Linked DNA regions of Homo sapiens: region 2 is linked to region 1. A link means that fine-mapping ties the variant in region 1 to the expression of a gene that starts in the linked region. Tissue or cell type: whole blood. Region 1 holds a variant in brackets; the other region holds the start of a gene. All regions are shown on one strand. Distances are from middle to middle.

Evidence for each region. PIP is the estimated chance that this variant, and not a neighbour inherited with it, causes the effect.
Region 2: it holds the start of RNF187, and the variant in region 1 is fine-mapped to the expression of RNF187 in whole blood (TOPMed, PIP above 0.99).

The regions. Positions count from the first base shown.
Region 1 is chr1:228,441,763-228,449,292 of GRCh38, reverse strand. LOC124904538 (a long non-coding RNA gene) reads left to right here and starts at 4,261. Exons shown (of 2, transcript XR_007066919.1): 1 at 4,261-7,530. It also overlaps the pseudogene RPL23AP15. The variant C/G (reference allele first, on the strand shown) is at 3,544.
Region 2 is chr1:228,483,927-228,491,456 of GRCh38, reverse strand. It overlaps RNF187 (ring finger protein 187), which reads right to left and starts at 4,075. Exons shown (of 4, transcript NM_001010858.3): 1 at 3,579-4,075; 2 at 2,405-2,497. The coding sequence starts at 3,968. RefSeq lists enhancers at 1,901-2,628, 2,629-3,357, 3,475-4,335, 4,637-5,016, 4,336-5,197 and 1 more and silencers at 3,437-3,636, 3,897-4,016.

The DNA of each region.
Region 1 (7,530 bases):
AGGCTGTGAAGAAGCTCTGTGACATTAATGTGGCCAAGGTCAACACCCTGATCAGCCTGATGGAGAGCATATGTTCAACTGGCTCCTGATTACAGTGCTTTGGATGTTACCAACAAAATTGGGATCATCTAAACTGAGTCCAGCTGGCTAATTCTAAATATATGCATATATTTTCACCATTAAAAAAAAAAGGAAGAAAGTGAAGGGATAAAAGAATGGCTACTCCATAGGCAGAGCAGCTCTGAGGGCTACTGGTTGGCCACTTTTATGGTCATTTCTTGATTATATGCTAAACAAGGGGTGAATTATTCATGCGTTTCCCAGGAAAGGGGTGAGCAATTCTTGGACCTGAGGGTTCCTTCCCTTTATAGACCATATAGGGTAACTTCCTGATGTTTCCATGGCATTTGTAAATTGTCATGATGCTGTTGGGAGTATCTTTTACTTATAATTAATGATAATTAATGTATTATAATGAGCAGTGAGGACGACCAGAGGTCACATTAGTCGCCATCTTGGTTTTGGTGGGATTTGGCTGCCTTCTTTACCGCGTGCTGTTTCATTAGCAAGGTCTTTGTGACCTATATCTTGTGCCGACCTCCTATCTCATCCTGTAACTTAGAATGCCTAACCTCCTGGGAATGCAGTCCAGCAGGTCTCAGCCTTATTTTACCCAGCCCCTATTCAAGATGGAGTTGCTCTAACTCAAATGCCTCTGACAGTATGATCTACAAATAAAGCTCGTACATATTCAAGGTGCACAGCATGATGTCTTGGTACATGTCACGTGGTGAAATGATTACCACAGTCAAATCAATTAACACACACATCACCTCATGTGGTTACCTGTGTGTGTGTGCATGTGTCTGTGTGTGCGGTGACAACATGTAAGATCTACTCAGTAAATTTTATGTCCATGATATGTTATTAACCAGAGTCTCCATGCTGTGCTTCAGGTCTCCAGAACTACTTATCTTATAGCTGAAGCTTTGTACTCCTCCTCACCCAGCCCCTGACTTTTTTAGATTCCATATATAAGTTGGCTCATGCAGTATTATTTGTCTTTCTGTGCCTGGCTTATTTCACTTAGCATAATGTCCTCTGGGTTCATCCATGTTGTTGACATGGTTTCCTTCTTTTTTAGACCTGAATAATTTTCATTATTATAGTGTAGTATAGCATGTAACACTAATATCTATACCACGTTTTCTTTATTCATTCACTGATGGACATTTAGGTTGTTTCTGTATCTCAGCTATTATGAATAGTGCTGTAATTAACATGGGAGTGCAAGTATCTCTTTATGACAGTGATTTTATTTCCATTGGGCATACTCAGAAGTGAGATGGCTGGATCAACAAAATTAAAAGGCAACCTATGGATGGGTGAAAACATTTGCAAACCAAACATCTGGTAAGGGGTTAATACCCAAAATATATAAGAGCTCCTACAACTTATTAGCAAAAAACAAAACCAAAACAAGAACCAAATAACCTAACTTTAAAAATAGACAAAGGACCTAAATAGGCATTTCTCCCAAGAAGGCATACATATGGCCAACAGGCATATGAATAGGTGTTCAACATTACTAATCTAGGAGGGTCGGTAGGGTGGCTCATGCCTCTAATCCCAGAGCCTAAGGTGGGAGGATTGCTAGAGCCCAGGCTTTGGAGACCAGCCTGGGCAACATAGGAAGACTCCGTCTGTACAAAAAATTTTTAAAAATCAGCGGGGCGTGGTCGTTCCTGAGGTCCCATCTAGTCCAGAGGCTGAGGCGGGAGTATCCCTCGAGCCCGGGAAGTCTAGGTTGCAGTGAGCCGAGATTGCACCACTGCACTCCAGCCTGGGCCACAGAGGGAGACCCTGTCGCAAAAAATAAATAAATAAATAAAATTCAGGAAAATGCAAATCAGAATCAGAATGAAATGTCTCCGAACACCTGTTAGAATGGCTAATATCAAAAAGACAAGAGACAACAAGTGTTGGTCACGATGTGGAGAAAAGGGACCCTTCGCACGCTGTTGAGGGGAATGTAAACTGGTGCAGCCATCACGGAAAATAGGACGGAGGTTCCTCCAAAAACTCAAAACAAGGTCCAGTCTTTCTGAGGCCCCCTTCTGCTTGCCTGTGACCACCCTTCTTCCAACCCTCCAGTTCCAGGTCCCCTCTGCTGCCCTTAGACGCGGCGTCTTCGCACTCTGGGCCTTACCGCGGCTGCTCCTCCAGGTTTGCTCTCCAACTGCAGCCTTCCCTGTCCTACGCGACCACCGGCCTCCTGGCGCCCTCTGCCTATAGTGAACACCCCTCCAACACCGTGCCATCACCTCACGTTTACTCTCACCTCCTCCTCCACTAAATTGCAAGCTCCAGGGAGGCATGTTTTCATCTGATGCGTTCACCCCAAGTACTAACAGCTATGCCTGGCACATAGTAGATGCTAAATGGATATTTGATGAACTTAAAAAAAAAATTCAAAGGATTCCTTTCCTCTCTGGTCAATGGAAGACGGAGAAGGAATGAAATTGAACTTCAATAGCTTAACAAAGGGCGGGAGGGTGGTGTGTTGACCGCCCCCCCAACCCCCCAACGCTGGGCCCCAACCCACCCCGCCCCGCCCCCACGGGATGCTTTTCTACAAGGGTGAGAGGAGCTGACTCCGGTTTGGACTGGAAGAAAGTTTCCAAGAAAATCAAATTAGTGGCCCAAACACATACCCCTTCTCCGCCCCGCGCAGTCTCTGAGATGCGTCCCAGCAATTGCCCAGGGACTTGGAGGGAGCGGGCATTTTCAGGCTGCACAGAGGCCATCTGGGGAGAAGGTGTGCGGCTGTTTTGCTGAAATGTAAAAAGAGATGTCCTTTGGAGCCCGGGACGCCGTTTCCGGCTGGCTACCCGAGGTTGCGTGCAAGGGGCGGGTCCTTAGGCATGAAAATGACCCTCCCGGCCGCAACGGCGCACAGGCCCAGGGCCGCTGAGCCCCTCCAAGCCGGGATTCGTTTTGGAGACCTGCGCGATGGAGCGGACAGCGGGACTGGGGGGCGCCGCAGTGCAGGGTGTACAGCTGCAGAGAAGCCGGGGATACAGGGGTGCGGGGCGCAGGGATAACGGGCGCAGGGGACGGTCACGGGTGCTTTCTAGTGGGTTGTGCAGGCTCAGGTTCCCAGCGCTGGGTGGTTGCGACTCTGCATAAAACGCTAAGCTTTTGAGGCCCTTATTCAAGCTCGGGGACGTCTCCCAGTTGGTCAGTTCAAAACCTCTGGGCCAGGTTGCGTTGGTGGCAGATTCCGCCCGCTAAGTCTCCGCACGCTGCCGCGGGTCTGCTCCTCCCCCGGGGTCAGAACCTCTGACGCTCTCCTGCTTTTACACGCGTTAAGTCACTGGTTTCTTGCAGCATCACGTGTTCCCTAGATACATGGGCTGAGGCTTATTCTTCCTGAAAGTGAGGGTTTTTTCCTTTGGGCTTTCCAGAGCCAGCCCGCGTGGAGAGTGACGAGTGACAGGCGCCTTTGTTCCGGGCTTGCATGGGTGGGACGCGCCCCCTCCT[C/G]AGCACTCAGCCCGGCGAGCCTGGCCCTCCCGTCGCCCCTTCTTAAGTGCATTTGTCCCGGGCTCTCGATTTTGTTTACTCTTTCCTGCTTACACAGGTACACACACACACCCAGACCTAAACTTTATATAAACAGACATGAACTTAAAGAAACAAAATCCCCCTATGTGTCAACGCGCTCCTTTTTAACAAAATCAACAAAAATTCAACACAATGTTATTTCCATCCTTTTGTTGTCTTATTAGAAACGTGTATGTTAACTTTCCTCCTTTTATAAATGGGGCATGTTCTAATTAACCATTTGTATGGTTGTTTTTAGTGCTCAAATGGTCACATTGCAGCCCCGGGGAGGTATTTTCAAAACGCTGCTCTGTCATTTTAGGATCACCCTGATTGTTGGAAGCACCTTTGCTTTTGTTTTTGTTTTGTTTTTGTTTTGCTGAGACGGGGTCTAGCTCTGCCGCCTAATCAGGCTCACTGTGGCTTCAAAACTCCTGGCTCAAGCAATCCTCCCGCCTCAGCCTCCCAAGTAGCTGGTACTACAGGTGAGTACCACAGCGCCTAATTGGTTTTTTGTTTTGTGTGTGTGTGCGTGTTTTTGGTTTTTTTTGTTTGTTTGTTTTTGTTTTTGTTTTGTTTTGTTTTGTAGGCAGGTTCTCCCTATATTGCCCAGGATGGCCTTGAACTCTAACCTCGGCCTCCCAAAGTGCTGGGATTACAGGTGTGAGCCACTGGCACCCGGCTCATCTTTGCTTTCTGACAGCAAAAAGTTATTTCAGACCTATCATGGGTGTTTTGTTTTGTTTTGAATTTTTGTTTTTTTGACTCCAGATATGGACTTAACTGCACTCCAAGGAGTTTATGTTGCTCTTCATGAAAATTAGTATTATAGACAAAATTGAAGCTGGGAATCAGCTACTTTTGTCTCTCATTTTCACTGTTCTCTTTTTTTTTTAGATGGAGTCTCACCCTGTCCCCCAGGCTGGAGTGCAATGGTGCGATCTCGGCTCACTGCAACCTCTGCCTCCTGGGTTCAAGCGATTCTCCTGCCTCAGCCTCCCAAGTAGCTGGGAGTACAGGCGCTGCGTCACCATGCCTGGCTAATTTTTTGTATCTTTAGTAGAGATGGGGTTTCACCATGTTGGCCGGGCTGGTCTCGAATCCCTGACCTTGTGATCTGCCCGCCTTGGCCTCCCAAAGTGCTGGGATTACAGGCATGAGCCACCACGCCCGGCCACTGTTCTCTTTTTTTAATGATGGTGTAGCTGTCTACCCTGTGGAGATATATTGATCTTCAAAATCACCGTGATAGTACAGTTATTATGGAAAACATTATTAAATTCAAAATAGAATTCCCAAACGATATAGCAACCCCACTGCTGGGGATATATCTAAAGGAAATGAAATCCGTATCCAGAAGAGAGATCTGCACCATGTTCACTGCAGCACCATTTACAATAACCAAGACATGGAGTTAACCTAAGTATCCATTGTCGGATGAATGAGTAAAGAAAATATGGTACATATGTACAATGAAATACTATTCCGGCCTTAAAACATAATGAAATTCCCTCATTTGTGACAACAGGGGTGAAATGAGAACATTACGTTAAGTGAAATTAGCCAGATATGGAAAGACAAACACTGCATAATCTCACTTCTATGCGGAATCTAAAGAGGTTGATATCATAAAGCAGAGAGTGGAATGATGGTCACCAGGATCTGGGGGCCAGAGACGCTGACTAAAGGGCACAGGAGGGGGCTAGGGCACGCTGACACAGGAGGAGTCAGTTCAAGACATCTAATGTACAACACAATGACTATAATTCACAGCAATGTAGTACATGAAAATTGCTAAGAGAGTAGATTTTAGGTGTTCTCACCACAAATAAATATGTGAGGTAATGTCTATGTTAATTAGCTTGATTTAGCCATTCCCCAATCCATATTCCCAACACAATACATATTTCAAAACAGTACCTTGTACACCATATATACAATTTTTGTCAGTTTAAAGAAATAAAGAAGAAAAAAAGTCACCATGATCATTGGTAGTCCTTCCATGATAATGCTGATGCCTCATCCTCAAGTGAGGACATTTGTCTCAGTCACTTCAAGCTGCTATGACAAAACACCAGAGACTGAGCAATTTGTAGACAATAGAATTTTTGATCACAGTCTGGAGGCTGAAAGTTCAAGATGAAGGTGTCAGCAGGGCTGGGGTCTGGTGAGGGTCCTCTTCTGGGCTGTAGAGTGCAGTCTTGTGGTTGCAACCTCATGTGATGGAAGGGGTGAGGCAGCTCTCTGGAGTCCATTTTACAGTGGCCCTAATCCCATCAGTGAGGGCTCCACCTTGATGACCTAATTATCTCCCCAAGGCCCCACCTCCTATGCCATCCTCACATTGAGGGTTGGGGCTTCCACAGATGAGTTTGGGCTGGGGACACAAATGTTACCCGAAAGGGGTCCCAGTCCAAACCCCAAAAAAGGGTTCTTGGATCTGGTGCAAGAAAGAATTTGAGGCAAATCCATAAAGTGAAAGCAAGTTTATTAAGAAAGTAAAGGAATAAAAAATGACTAATCCATAGGCAGAGCAGTGGCATGGTGCGCTGGTTGCCCATTTTTATGTTTATTTCTTGATTATATGCTAAATAAGGTGGGGATTATTCATGAGTCTCCCAGGAAAGGTGTGGGCAATTCCCAGAGCTGAGGGTTTCTCCTCTTTTTAGACCATATAGGGTAACTTCTGGATGTTGCCATGGCATTTGTAAACTGTCATAGCACTGGTGGGAGTGTAGTGGTGAGGATGACCAGAGGTCACTCTCATCGCCATCTTGGTTTTGGTGGGTTTGGGGCAGCTTGTTTACTGCAACCTGTTTTATGAGCAGCGTCTTTATGACCTGTATCTTGTGCTAACCTCCTGTCTCATCCTGTGACTTAGAATGCCTTAACCTCCTTAATCTCCTGGGAATGCAGCCCAGCAGGTCTCAGCCTTATTTTACCCAGCCCCTATTCAAGATGGAGTTGCTCTGGTTCACACGTCTCTGACACAAACATTTAAGCCAAAGCAACATTGTGGAAAGAAAGGAAAGACATTTCTGAAAACAAATGTGTGGTTCTGCCTGATGGTTCTGGTGAATCTTCCGCACTTGCTATGACAAGAAATTCAAGGAAAATAATAGGTGAGAGTTGTTTTGTGAAAAATGCTGCAACTTTGGCATTGTTGCTACTGCAATTTGGGCCCAGGGTCTTGCAGGTTGGGGTTTCACCCTCCTCATTTCACATAAACCCGGGGCCAGCCTTCACTGGATGCTAATTGGCATATCTACAAATAGGCCAGCCGGTCTGTGTCTCCTGATTTAGAGACTGTAAACTAAAAATAAAATCCTAAGCACCCCTAACCAACTGCACAGACACTCTGTTGGTAAAAGGGACCCCATAGAACCTTAAAAACTGAGTTTCTGGCCATGATAGGGTGGGAGTCAGACACATCTCATTATACCCCTTTCTGTTGAGGTTTAGACACAACTGACAGCATTCATGTTAACATAGAGACAGTCCAGGTGAGGTTAAGAGAATTTTTTAAAAAAACACAGACACAGGATGGAGTCTTTGTGGCAATAAGGTGACAAATTATAAACAAGACCTAAGGGTTAAGTCAGCACCCTACACTTAAAGAATAAACCATGTTTTCACTGCTGCAAGGGTTTTCTTTTACTCCAGCAGCTAACCAAGCACTGGCCTCCAGCTAAGCAACATTAAGACAATTGCAGCTTACCCAGCTCACAGAGGCTGACTCTCCGACCCCCTGCTCCACCAGCCATGATGGCAGCATTCACTGGACAAGACACTGACTTCAAGAGCTTTCTGCTGATGAGAGACCACGACCTTGGGCTAGTCCTGGCCAGTTTACAGACGCTGTGCACTTGAGCACCTTTGAGTCCTGGAAAGACCTAATTGGAATACATTTACATGTGAAGCCTCCAC
Region 2 (7,530 bases), 42 kb before region 1:
AAAAAAAAAATCCTATGTTTTTTCTCCCATTAACCCATCTCCCTTTATTTTTTTTTTTTTTTTTTTTTTGAGATAGGGCCTCACTCTGTCACCCATGTTGGAGTGCAGTGGTGCCATCACAGTTCACTGCAGCCTCAACCTCTTGGGCTTAAGTGATCCTCCCACCTCAGCCTCCCAAGTAGCTGGGACCACAGATGCAACACCATACCTGGCTAATTTATTAATTTTTGTACAGATGGTGGTCTCACTATGTTACCCAGGCTGGTCTCGAACTCCTAGCCTCAAGCAATCCTCCTACACCTCAGCCTCCCAAGTTGCTGGGATTACAGGCATGAACCACTGCACCTGACCCTGTTAGTTTAGCTTATGTCAGTTTAATTCTCCCGCCCAGCCTGGGGCCCTAAAAGGGGAGAAATAGAGTTCTTTCTCCCCTACACTGCAGTGCTCAGCTGCACAGGAAGACTGTCCCTCTCCCATCTCCCATGGCCAAGGGGACAGTAAATCCTTGAGTGGCCCTGCTAGGTCTAGAGCCTGTCAGGCACGTGACTGTCAGGGCAGGACACACACCCATCTTGCCAGCAACTGTCCCTGCTGTGCCCACACCAGAACTCCAATGGCTGAAAACCATCCCATCAGCCTTCAACAAACAGCATTCACACTTGCCACTCTTCAGCTGGTTTTCAGCCAACTCCTAACCTTGCAAACAGGAGAGCAGAGCAGGATGCTACTCTGATTTTACTCAGTCATGGATGGCTTCCACCTGGCCCTGGGCCACACAGGGCAGGTGACACCCATAGTCATGAGGGGCCAAGGCTTTTGTTGCTGAGAATGCAAATGACAGCTGGGTGTCTGCTGGCTGGCTGATGCAACACGCTGCAAACTCCTTCCTTTGGATTTAGGTGGCTTCTCTCATCCCAGCATCTAAGCCACAAACCCCCAAAACAGGACAGATTGAAAGCTCCAACCTGCTAAAATCTGTGGGCAAAACAATTCCCTTGGGGTAACACAGGGTTACTGAAAACTTGGAGGTCCCCAAAGCCTTCCAGCCTCACTTGCACTGGGCAGTGTTGACCACTCACAAGGCAAGGAGAAGTTCAGAGCAGCCCCAAGGGCAGTGTGGAGTGCCAGGGGTCTGAGTGGCATCAGGGACCCCATGTGTAACCCGTCACTGTCTGAGGGAGGCCTGCACCTCAGGCCTGTGGATAGCAGGCAAGGGCTTGGCAGCACCAGGAGCACAGAGCCCACCTCAGCCTCAAGCTGGGGTAAAAACGTGGGCCTCAGCCTCGAGATGCAGCCAGTTACCCAAGAGCTGCTGCACCTGTGAAAAGCACTCTGTCTTTCAGGTTAAAAGAAGGAGATAGGAATTTATGAAACGCAGAGAAAATGGCACACAGGTTTTTACTACACGAGGAAAAAGTCACCAAATAGAGTTTAAACGACTAAAGAGCTTTACTGGTGAGTAACCTAAAAGAATCTATGGGATGTCCCCTTGGGATATAATACTGTGGAAGGCACCCAAGGAAAGTAACGCTGCTCTGGTCTGAATGTCTGTGTCCTCCCCAAATCCCCATGCTGAAATCCTCATCCCTCAGGTGATGGCGTTAGGAGGCAGGACCCTTGGGAGGTGATGAGGTTGTGAGGGTGGAACTCTCAAGAACGGAATCAGTGTCCTTACACAAAGGCCCCAGAGACACCCTCACTTCTTCCACCATGTGAGGACACAGTGAGAAGACACCATCTATGAACCAGGAAACGCCCTCACCAGACAGGGAATCTGCCAGTTCCTTCATCTTGGACTTCTAGCCTCTAAAAAATAATGAGCAACTCTCAGATCAGAACAAGAGGACCACAGAAAATTACAGATGTGTTCTAAAAAAGAAAAAAAAAATAGCACTTTGGGAGGCCAAGGCGGGAGAACCGCTTAAGGTCAGGAGTTTGAGACCAGCCTGGGCAACACAGCAAGACCCCCACCTCTAGAAAAGCATTTTAAAATTAACCAGGTGTGGTAGCACGTGCCTATAGTCCCAGAGGCTGAGGTGGGAGGATCGCCTGAGGCCAGTTCGAGCTGCAGTGAGCTACAATCATGCCATTGCACTTCAGCCTGGGTAATGAAGTGAGACTCTGTCTCTTGGGAAAAAAAAAAGAAGTCTGATGCTGCCATCACCTACAGGTAAAATGTGAGGAGAAAAAGAGGCTTCCACTGGCTTTGGCTAGATTCTATTTGAGAAATACAAACACATCCTAAAAAAAATACCCTGAAGCTCACTTAAGTCCAGAGGCCCCTCCTCCAACCAACCAGCTGAGCAGTTCAGAGGCCTGGCCCACTTGGCCTGGTGGTCCCTTTGTCTAGAGCCCTGAGCCCACAGTCCCCTCATTCCAGGCTGCCCCAGGTCCCCCCACTTGCCTTCCACACTGCAGCTGCTGACTCTGCCTGGCCATGCAGGTCCCGGGCGTCATTCAAGTCCTTTCTCATGATTTCCACAGACCCCTTGTTCTCCTGTAAAGAAAAGAAGGTCACCAGGGGTGGGCAGAAGCTCTGGGTCCCCCAACCCAGCCCAGTACTGAGGGACATCACCCCAGCTGACTGCACACAGTCTGACCATCCCAGAGATAACCTCGAAGCCCGGTTGTCTAGGGCAGGAACGCACAGGCAGTCAAAAGGTTTCTTGGGCTTCACACCTATTCAGAAGGATCTGGGTGCTGGGGCTAAGGGGACTGTCTAGGTGGGTTTAGGAGTTCTGTGTCTGTAAGTGGCCCTGTTCAGTGTGAGTTCGGCCTGTACCAAAGGTCTGCACAGCCTGCCCTACACCCTGCCCTGCCTGAGCCGGATGGGGGTCGCTCTGCCCGGTGGCAGGACCCCCAATGCAGGAGGAGCACCCAGGGACACAGTCTGGCTGGCTTCCCCTCCCCTGTATTGAAGAGCAGGACCCCAGGCTGGCTGTTGTCTCCTATTCTGTGTCCCACAACCAACCCGCCATGGGCAAGGCTCCAGACTCCCGGACCCGCTGCTGCCAGACTCTCAGAGCGGGTTTCTGAAAGATGGGAGAGGGGACAGGGGGTGCAGGCGAGGGCTGGGTGGCCCGGGGAGCAGACGAGAAGGTGGGCCAGGCCTGTGGACACAGTGGAATACAGAGGGGCAAGAGGCGTGATGTCTCCCCCAAGGGAAGAGTGAGTGGAGGAGTCAATCTGTAGGAACTAGAGGGGGTCTATGAGGGCGAGACAGGGCACAGCTAGTGATGGGACCACAAAGATGGGCGCTGGTGGGGGAAGGACTTCGTAGAAGGTAGGGGGTGGGGAGATAAGGCACCGCCCAGCAGGGGACACCAAGACGGGGAAGGGGACCAGACTCCGAAGAGACGCAGGAAATATGGGGAGGCAAGCCGCAGGAGGGAGGGGCCCAGCACACGCTGGAGAGGGGACCCGTGGCGGTGAGGGGAGGGGGACAATCCGGGGACGGGGACAATCCGGGGACAGGAACAGTGGAGACGGGAAGGGCCCAGGGCTCAGGGGGACCGGGGCGGGGGCGGAGAGGCGCAGGGCACCGTCCGGGGTGGGGCACGGGACCCCGCGGCGCGCACCTTGCCGCGCAGCGCCTTCCTCCAGCGCGGTTCCCACTCGGGCGGCTCGGGGCCCGCAGCCATACGGCAGGCGGCGCAGAGCGGGCCGGCGTCGGCGCGGCACAGCAGCTGCAGCGCGGCCTCGCTGGCCGGGCCGTCGCGCGCGGGCGCCGCGGCCGCCTCCTCGAGCGCCAGAAGGCGGCGGCTGAGCGGGGGCCTGCCGGGCTCCACGGCGCGCTGCCAGCAGTCGTCGGCGCACTCGGGGCACGGGAAGGGCCCGTCCTCCTCGGCCCAGAAGCGCACCACGCACGCCCGACAGAAGCGGTGGCCGCAGTCGGCGCGCACCGGTTCCCGGGGCGCGCGCTGGCACAGGGCGCAGGCGGCCTCGGCGGGGCCCGCAGGGAGCGCCAGGGCTGCGGGCGGCGGGGCCGGCAAGGGCGCAGGAGCGGCTGGGGAGGGCCGGAGACCTAGACGGCCGGCGACCGGACGGAGACCAGCAACAGGACGAAGACGCCAACGCCGGGGACGCGCACGGGGCGGGGTCGGGGACGCGCACGGGGCGGGGTCCGGACCGCGGAGCGCTCTGCCGATAAGATCCTGGCAGCGGTGTGCTGCAGCCGGAGGTCCTGGCCGCGCTGCGCTCCACAGACAAGATCCTGGCAGCAGTGTACTGCATCCTTAGGTCCTGGCCGCGGTGGGCTTCTCCGCCTGGATCCTAGCGGCGGTGCGCTCCTCCGCCTTGATTTTGGCAACTATGCTCTCCACCTGCAAGGTCCTGGCAGCGGCGCACGTCACCGCGCAAGTCCTGGCAGCTGCGCGCTTCACTCTACTGCCTGCGGACCGGCCCAAGTCGTATCCTGAAATCTTACTGGGCTGTCCCTTCCTACTTCAGTAACTCCTGCGAAAGAGGGAAACAAAGTTTTATTTTTACTTGAAGGTTCCATTTTTAAAAGGTTGTTTTTGTAAGCTGCTAGGATCTGAGCTGCGCGTACCCCCGCGGTAGCTCGCCCGCGTGGGCTGGGGACGGGGCGGGAAATGGCCTGCGTGGGCCTCCTCCGCTGCTCTCATCCTGCACGGACCCGCCCTGCATGGGCACGCCCTGCGTGCACGGGCCTGCCCGCGTGGACGTGCCCTGCGTGCACCCTTCCTTCAGGGACCCGCCCTTGAACGGCCCTCCGGACGTGGACACTCGTATACGCCCACCCTGCGTGGGATCTCCCTGCGTGGACCCATCCCGCTGAGCCTCTTCTCGCGCAGCCTCCCTCTGGCCCCCTGGGAAGCTACCCTGGTTGTCCGCTGTCTCCTGGCTGGGGGGAGCTCTCATTGATTCTGTGATGATGCATGACAGAAGAGCATTTGTTAGCTTTGCTTTGCTTTTCTTTCTTTTTTGAGACAGCCTCGCTCTGTTGCCAGGCAGGCTTGAGTGCAGTGGCGCGATCTCGGCTCACTGCAACCTCCGCGTCCCGGGTTCAAGCGATTCTCCTGCCTCAGCCCCCCGAGTAGCCGGTATTGCAGGCGCCTGCCACGACGCCCGGCTAATTTTTGTATTTTTAGTACAGACGGGGTTTCACCATGTTGGCCAGGCTGGCCTCGAACTCCTGACCTCGTAATCCACCCGCCTCTGCCTCCCAAAGTGCTGGGATTACAGGCGTGAGCCACTACACCCGGCCGTTAGCTTTTCTTTAAAAAATAAATTTAAAGGAAAGAAATAAGCCTTTGGGAAGAGCAATCTTGTGTTTTTGTTTTTTAATTATTTTGAAAACAAGCAAGCATGGTTAAAATAAGATTGTGCAAGTTTTGCATTTTAAAAAATTAATCTGGGCCGGGCGCCGTGGCTCACGTCTCTAATCCCAGCACTTTGCGAGGCCGAGGCGAGCGGATCACAAGGTCAAGATATGAGACCATCCTGGCTCATGGTGAAACCCCGTCTCTACTAAAAATACACAAATTAGCCGGGCGTGGTGGCGCATGCCTGTAATCCCAGCTACTCAGGAGGCTGAGGCAGGAGAATCACTTGAACCAGGGAGTCGGAGGTTGCGGTGAGCCAAGATCGTGCCACTGCACTCTAGCCTGGCGACAGAGCGAGACTCTGTCTTAAAAAACAAAAACAAAAAAAAATTTTTATAAATCTGTATTCCAAGCAAGCGCAGGATCTAATGAGGTATTTTTGTCTTTGTGAAGATTTTTTAAATCGACTTGGAAATGCACTAGATGCCCGTGGGAAACATGAATAGTAAACCGAGGTTATTTCTGTGTAGTAAAGATTAGAGGCTTCCAGCCGAGCCTTGCTGATATTGTTGAGTCAACTAGGAACTTGCTGGAGAGAAAAGTAAAAAATATAAAAAATGAGCAAACTTCATAATGAACTAATCTTGTGAATGAGAAAATATCAAAAATTATAATTAAAGGCAAATAGCCAAATTAGGAACATTGTAACCACAAATATACAAAGAGTTTATAAAATTAGGTAAGGAAAAGCATGATGGAAAATACACCTTGTCATGGGATTTTTCAAATCACAAAAAAAAAAGCACACAAATGATTGAACACACATGAGAAAAAAATGTACACTCTGCCCAGTTAAGAAAGAGGAAAATAAAACGAGACTCTCTTTCTTTCCACTATTAAGTAAGCAGACCAAACAAAAAAAAGGAAACTTGGCCGGGAGCCGTGGCTCAGGCCTGTAAACACAGCACTTTGGGAGGCCGAGGCGGGTGAATCATCTGAGGTCAGGAGTTCAAGACCAGCCTGGCCAACATAGTGAAACCCTATCTCTACTAAAAATACAAAAATTAGGCTGGATGTGGTGGCACACGCCTGTAATCCCAGCACTTTGGGAGGCTGAGGCAGGTGGATCACAAGATCAAGAGATCGAGACCATCCTGGCCAACATGGTGAAACCCCGTCTCTACTAAAAATACAAAAATTAGTTGGGCATGGTGGTGCACGCCTGTGGTCCCAGCTACTTGAGAGGCTGAGGCAGGAGAATAGCTGGAACCGGGAGACGAAGGTTGCAGTGAGCCGAGATCATGCCACTACACTCCAACCTGGCGACAGAGCAAGACTCCCTCAGTTTCAAAAAAAAAAAAAAAATACAAAAATTAGCCAGGCATGGTGGCACGTGCCTGTAATCCCAGCTATTTGGGTGGCTGAGGCAGGAGAATCGCTTGAACCTGGGCGGTGGAGGTTGCAGTGAGCCGAGATCACACCACTGCACTCCAGCCTGGGCAACAGAGTGAAACTCCATTTCAAAAAAACAAAAAACAGAAAACAAACAAACAAAAAAAACACTTGATTCTGTGAATACTGCTTCTTGTAATCCACGTAGCAGTATCGATTAAGGATTTTCTGATTGGAATTCCTTTTCTTAGAAAACAAACTATAAAAATAACAGGAAATGAAAATAATAAAAATTGGGTTGTAAAAAATTGGGCTGTTTTGTTTTGTTTAGAAATGTGGCTGGGAGAGGTGGCTCATGCCTGTTAATCCCAGCACTTTGGGAGGCTGAGGTGAGTGGATAGCTTGAGCCCAGTAGTTCAACACCAGCCTGGGGAACATGGCAAGAACCTGTCTGTACAGAAAATTTTTAAAATTTAGCTGGGCGTGGTGGCACGCACCTGTGGACCCAACTACTTGGGAGGCTGAGGTGGGAGGATCACCCGAGCACAGGAGATTGAGCCTGTAGTGAGCCGTGATCATGCCACTGCACTCCAGCCTGGGAAATGAGAGAATTTTTTAAGACCTTGTCTTAAAAAAAAGAAAGAGAGAGAGAGAGAGAGAGAGAGGTGGGGGCGGGGGGTGGGGGAGAGAAGGAAGGAGTGGAGGGAGAGAGGAAGGAAGGAAGAAAGGGAAAAGAAAAAGAAGAAAGGAAGGAAAGAAAGAAAAGGAAGGAAGGAAGGAGAAAAAGAAGGAAGGAAAGAAAGAGAGAAAGGAAGGGAGGGAGGGAGGAAGGGAGAGGAAGAAAGAGAAGAAA